Linked DNA regions of Homo sapiens: region 1 is linked to region 2. A link means that fine-mapping ties the variant in region 2 to the expression of a gene that starts in the linked region. Tissue or cell type: prefrontal cortex. Region 2 holds a variant in brackets; the other region holds the start of a gene. All regions are shown on one strand. Distances are from middle to middle.

Region 1 (2,913 bases), 62 kb after region 2:
ATGTAATCCATCCACACTCTGCCTGCACTAGTTTGCATTCAATGTCTAATACTTTGAAAGAAAATTCTTTCTTTCTGTAAAGAATTAAACAGCAACGCGGAGTGATGTCTGGGTCTGCAGCAGCTAAGTCCTGCCTCCCGAGCTTGGGCACTGGAAACGCTAAGGATCTCTCTTTTTCCAGATCTGTCCTTGAGAAGCAACCAAATTCTCTCCACAGTCAAAGTTAGGACATAGTTTTTGTATTTCTCCAAAACATCCACTCACCCTGAAAATGCTCATCTCAGAAAGGTAAAGAAACAGGAGTTGCCAGGATGCATCCGAACACTCAGGGTCAAAATAGTGTCCTTTCTCTAGGGTTCACTAAACGTCTTCCTTCAGTTAACTGAGAGTTGAAAAAACTGATTTCTCTAGAGACCCACATAGCCCACAATACGGACATATCAGACAAGCTAAACGAGCAGCACACCAAGACAGCGGGAAGTCGCCTCTGGGATGGCCCTGGTTCTTCCAAACCCAGGCCCACAGCTTAGAAGGACAAATCTCACTTACTGGTGGTGTCAAACGGTATCTGCCTGCACTGCGCAGACCCCTCCGCGGGCCAAGGACAGTAATAGACGGCTCCCCCTTCCACGATATCGGGCTGGCTGGTGTTGGCTTTGGGCGCCCCCACCAAGACACTCGCTCTGCAAAAGAGTTGGAGAAAGTCACTCTTTGGGCGCCACAAAACCGTGCGCATGCAATGCAGTCTCTGTAACCTCCTGCCCGGGGACACTGGGGCAGGCGTGGAGGGCATGAACGTATTTATGATGAGGACCGACTGTCAAACTTGATTTCCTCTTGGAAACGGGGGTCCGCAACCTGGTTTGCAAGAATGCAAACGGTCCTGCTTCTCTAGGTGGAGCTCTGTGGGTACAGTGAGATGAGAGAAGGGGGTGGGGTAGGAGGAAGCCAAGGACAGAGCCCAGCTGCTGGTAGCCGACAGCTCTTGCGCCCAGACGCAATGGTTACAGACTCTGCATAAACAGACCTCGCTGTGGTGGCGGTTTTAACTGGCTTGGGTCTTCTGGGTCCTGTTCTCTCCTTTGTAGGATGCGTGCGTCTTGGTACCTGGAACACCCAGGACTTGCGTGTTCTATGCAAGTGGCATGTCTCTAGCTCAAAATTCACAAGGCACATCTAGCATGGCAGGGGAGAGAAGGGGCTGGTGGCGGGGAGAGGGACGGGACCCCGGGCAGGCGGCAGGACGGGGATCCCAGGCTGCGGGGGGACTCCGCGGCAGAGCCGCTGGGACCTGACCCGGGAGCGCCTTCGTCCCCGCGCGCACCTCCCCGGGTCGGGCGACTTACGTGCGGGCGTCGGGTATGTGGAAGTCCACGGCGTAGCCGAAGTAGCTGCCCTTGGGGCCGCTGTACACTGTGAGCTTTTCCACGTCCAGGTTGAACGCCTGACAGGCGGGGGACCACAGCAACATCCCCAGCGCGGCCGCGGCGCAGCAGAGGGGCGCGATCAGCGGCGCCTGGCTTCCCCGGGGACCGCGGCTGGCCCCGGGCGACATCTCCCTCCGCCCCGGTGGGTGGCTGCTACCCAGGAGCGCGAGCCGAGGACCCCTGCGGGGCAAGGGGGGCTGGTGGAATCTGGCGGTCCCCAGCTGCCCGTGTCCCGGGTCGGTGCGCTCGGCGCACCCGTGGTGACAGTGCCCGGCGTCTGCTCCCACCCGCCCGCCCGCCCAGCCGGCTCGGGGGGCTGGCCCAGGGGCTCTAGCCCTCCTCCGGCCGCGGGCAGGGACCAGCTCTCTCGCGGCGCCTCCTCGCGGCTGGTCTAGAGCCAGGGACTCCCGGGCGGCCCAGCTGGTGGCTGGAGCGCTGGGTGCCTCTTCGGGCTGCCCGGATTTCTATTGCAGTCCCATCTCAAGGACAATCAGTTTCGTCTCTGTCACCTCAAGCTATTTATTGCTTTAGAAGCAATGCCCCAGGTGGAGCGAGAGCTTGCTCCAGTTGTGTCAAAGGCGCAGCTTGGATGGAGAATGTGAAAACCAACCCCACCACCAGGAGGGGCAAAGCAATTATCTCTTCATCACCTCTGCAGCCTGACCTCAGCGTTCACGGCTTTGCACGTCTGTGATGAGAGTTAAAGTTGAAATGCAACAACCCTCTCCTCCCCTAAGTCCACCCCACCTCCTGGCAGAGCTAACTCATATACAAGAAAGCCTCGAGGGTTTTTTTTTGTTTTTGTTGTTGGGTGTCTGTGTGTGTGTGTGTGTGTGCGCGCGCGCCTGTGTGTGTGCATGTGTGAATTTTTTGTTTTTGTTTGTTTGGTTGGTTTGCTTTGTTTTATTTATTTTTTTTTTCTTTTTAGAGATAGGGTCTCTCTCTCGCCCAAGCTGGAGTGCAATGGTGCTATCATAGATCAATGAAATCTCAAACTCCTGGGCTCGAGCGATCCTCCTGCCTCAGCCTCCTGATTAGCTGGTACTGCAGATGACACATCACACCTGGTTAATTTTCTAATTTTTTTTTGTTGACACTGAGTCTGCTCATGTGGCCTAGGCTGGTCTCGATCTCCTGGCCTCAAGCCGTCCTGCCACCTCGAGTTGACTTTTAAAATTTCTTTTCTTTCTTTGTTTCTCTTTCTTTCTCCTTCTTCTTCTTCTTCTTTTTTTTTTTTTTTTTTTTTTTAAGGAGATGGGGGTCTCACCATGTTGTTCAACATGGTCTTGAACTCCTGGACTCAAGCGATCCTCCCACCTAAGCCTCCCACAGTGCTGGGATTTCAGGGTAAGCCGCCTTGCCCAGCCCTTGAGATTTTATTTAAATCTTTCTTAAAGGCATCTTGGGCATATTAAATGACTTAGTAGTAAATCTCCATCCTGTGTAATTGTGATGAAGTTTGGCGCAGTTAAGAATGTTGGAATTT
Region 2 (2,913 bases):
AAAAAGTTTTCATGTCGGGGGAACCCACATCTCAGTATCAATTTGTATCGTGCTCATAGTCAACAAAAGCTCCTAAATCTTTTCCATGAGTGTACACAGTGTACCATAGTCTCCCCACTTTTTTATTTATTTATTTATTTATTTTTTGAGATGAAGTCTCGCTCTGTTGCCCAGGCTGGAGTGCAGTGGTGTGATCTTGGCTCACTGCAACCTCCACCTCCTGGATTCAGGCAATTCTCCTGCCTCAGCCTCCTGAGTAACTGGGATTACAGGTACCTGCCACCATGCCCAGCTAATTTTTCTATTTTTAGTAGAGATGAGGTTTCACCATGTTGTCCAGGCTGGTCTTGAATTCCTGACCTCAGGTGATCCACCCACTCGGCCTCCCAAAGTGCTGGGATTACAGGTGTGATCCCCCGCACCTGGCCTCTCCCCATTTTATCGCTGCAGTTTTTCTTTTTAAACCTATGTTTTTGGATTTATAATCTTTTCAGGATTTATGCTCTCACCAGATTTGACCCATAGTTTCAGGTTGCCAGTTTGCTTCCATAGTGTGCCATGCAATGTTTGAAGTGACGTAGCTTCCATCGTGTCCTCATTTAATGAACATGCAATCCCTTAGAAAGCACACGCCCCAGGAGGCAGAGACTTTGGTCTGTTTTGTTTGCTGTTCTATCTGAACTTTCTGAGCAGTGTCTGGACCAAAGTAGGTGCCAGGTGCCAAATGCTCTTTGCAGAGAAAATGAATACATGAGTTAACAAGTGGCATGTAACAACTCAATTCTCACACCTCTTTTCTCTGTTCCAAACATAGATAGTGAAATTCTTTCTCTTGATGTGGTGGTGTGTGGCCTTTACTCAGAGGAATTTCATCATTTATGAAATTTCATCATTTATCACCTTCTGAGGTTCAGGATTACAGAACTAGGTGGTATTGAGGAGAGGAAGTTATAGAAAGACTAAATTTAGCAATGTTTAAAAAGTTTCTAATGATGAAAAGTAAACAGATCTGAGCAAAGGAGAAGCATTGCTAGATTCTCATTCACTTATTAATTACCACCACTTAGGAATAGTTGTTTCAAACAGTTCAATATCTATTCAACTTCCCGCTCATCTCAGTCTTATTTCTCCAAACCTTCCAAAAGAATATCAGGAGATATAAAATGCTTCGCTGAAAATTTCAGAGTAATAGACTAAAGCCCCAAATTACAGCAAAAAGATGTCAAAATCATTTTGTTTATTTTAAAACCTGCTGGTTTCTTTTTCTTTTCTTT[C/CTTTTT]ATTTTTTTTTTTTTTTTTTTTTAACAGAGACAGTGGTCTCACTATGTTGCCCAGGCTGGTCATGAGCTCCAGGCCTCAAGTGATCCTCCTGCCTTGGCCTTCCAAACTCCTGGGATTACAGGTATGAGCCACATTTCTTTAAATACTGAGTTGGTGCTTCCGTCTAAAGGAAGCCAGTTGTGAACTGAATTTGTTTCTCCAGGCAATCGATTTTTCTCTCCTCTTCAAATTTAATTAACATGGTTAGTTTTAAATGTATTACTTCCACAGCTTTGTTCATATTTAGTTTAAAATTAAGTGCGTAGTTCTGTTTGTAAATAGTCACATATAAGTTACAAACACAAGGAATTCATTTATTTTAAATTTGTCCTGCATTCAAACATGGAGGCCTGAATCTATATCTTACTGAAATAGAGATGCAATAGTTTATGATCATCATAAGCACACGTATTCGCATGCATCTCAAATTATAGAAGATTTAATGGCACATGGGAATTTAGTGGCTTTTGTTTGATCAAAAGGCAGGAGACAGGAAATGGGATGGAAAGGAATTAACATTTCTTGAGGAGTTGTTATGTGCCAGGGAATCTTCTAAGTAATCTACAATCCTTGATTTATTTCATTCTTAAAGGGAGCTTGGAAGATAAACATTTTATTCTTATTTTGCCAAGTGGCTCAAAGAGGTCAGATGATTTTCCTGTGGTCTCACACAGTTCATGAGCGGTGCGGTGGGAACTGGAAGTCTAATCTGTCAGCTGCAGAAGTCCAGGCCCTTTTTACAGTGACCTTCTTCCCATATCTTACATCAAAACCTTCAGGCCTTTATAGACTATTGAAAGATTCATGTTAATACGAAACCACTTCCCATTGTTCTTAGAAAAAAATTCTTAATCCCAAACACCGCCCACCTCCCCCACCAGTCTCCCATGAGTAGCCCCTGTCCCCTCCGTCCTCAGCTCCTACATCTCTCTTGCTTACAGAGACTGTGGCCTTCACTCTGCTCTTCACACATGTCTGGCTGGTTCTTGTTTGAAAGCCTTCTTGTTAGCCTTCCCTTGCCTGGAAGGTTCTGGATAAGATGGTATAGTTGGCTCTGTCTTGTCATTCACATCTCAGCCCAGACATTGGCACCTCAGAGGCCTCCTGATCACCCCATCCAAAGGCTTCCTTGCCACTTCCCTCCTGTCTTATATCACTCAGCTTTATTTTCTTTAAATCATGGTTCACAATCTGAAATTATCATGGACATTTATTTGCTTGTTAATAAACTGTCCCTTCCTCTCCCTCCCCTGCCACCTCACTGCTGCCTGAGAGCTGGATGGGATCTGTCTGTCTGATGCATGATTGCATCCCCGGTGCCTAGGACAGTTTCCAGTACGTAGTAGCTGCTCATTAAATATTTGTCAAATGGATGAATAACTGATATGAATATTATAGTCTACTGGTAACCCAGAGTGATTTTATTTATTTGATATTAAAATGTCTCTACCTGTTCTCCCGTGAAATTCTGAATAAACGTCATATCCGTAGAGTTAATGATGGAAACCTGAAATCACAGAAATTAAACAGGTTACACCATTTGCCATAGAATTGGAGCCTTTTTTAAAAACTACAACTTGAATCATTTAAAATTTTTTG

Alleles and levels. Alleles are on the strand shown, and positions count from the first base shown. SD is a standard deviation of normalised expression in the study named.
For the expression in prefrontal cortex of the gene that starts at base 1,706 in region 1, C is the low allele of the variant in region 2 and CTTTTT is the other (small effect, 0.33 SD a copy in ROSMAP).

What was found. PIP is the estimated chance that this variant, and not a neighbour inherited with it, causes the effect. A credible set is the group of variants that fine-mapping cannot tell apart.
Region 1: ITGA8 starts here. The variant in region 2 is the best candidate, but not a certain one, in a credible set for the expression of ITGA8 in prefrontal cortex (ROSMAP, PIP 0.67).

What each region holds. Positions count from the first base shown.
Region 1 is chr10:15,718,217-15,721,129 of GRCh38, forward strand. ITGA8 (integrin subunit alpha 8) reads right to left here and starts at 1,706. Exons shown (of 30, transcript NM_003638.3): 1 at 1,347-1,706; 2 at 550-683. The coding sequence starts at 1,555.
Region 2 is chr10:15,656,235-15,659,147 of GRCh38, forward strand. It overlaps ITGA8 (integrin subunit alpha 8), which reads right to left. Exons shown (of 30, transcript NM_003638.3): 10 at 2,765-2,821. Among named protein-coding and RNA genes, the nearest start is that of ITGA8, 62 kb to the right of the region's middle. The variant C/CTTTTT (reference allele first, on the strand shown) is at 1,275.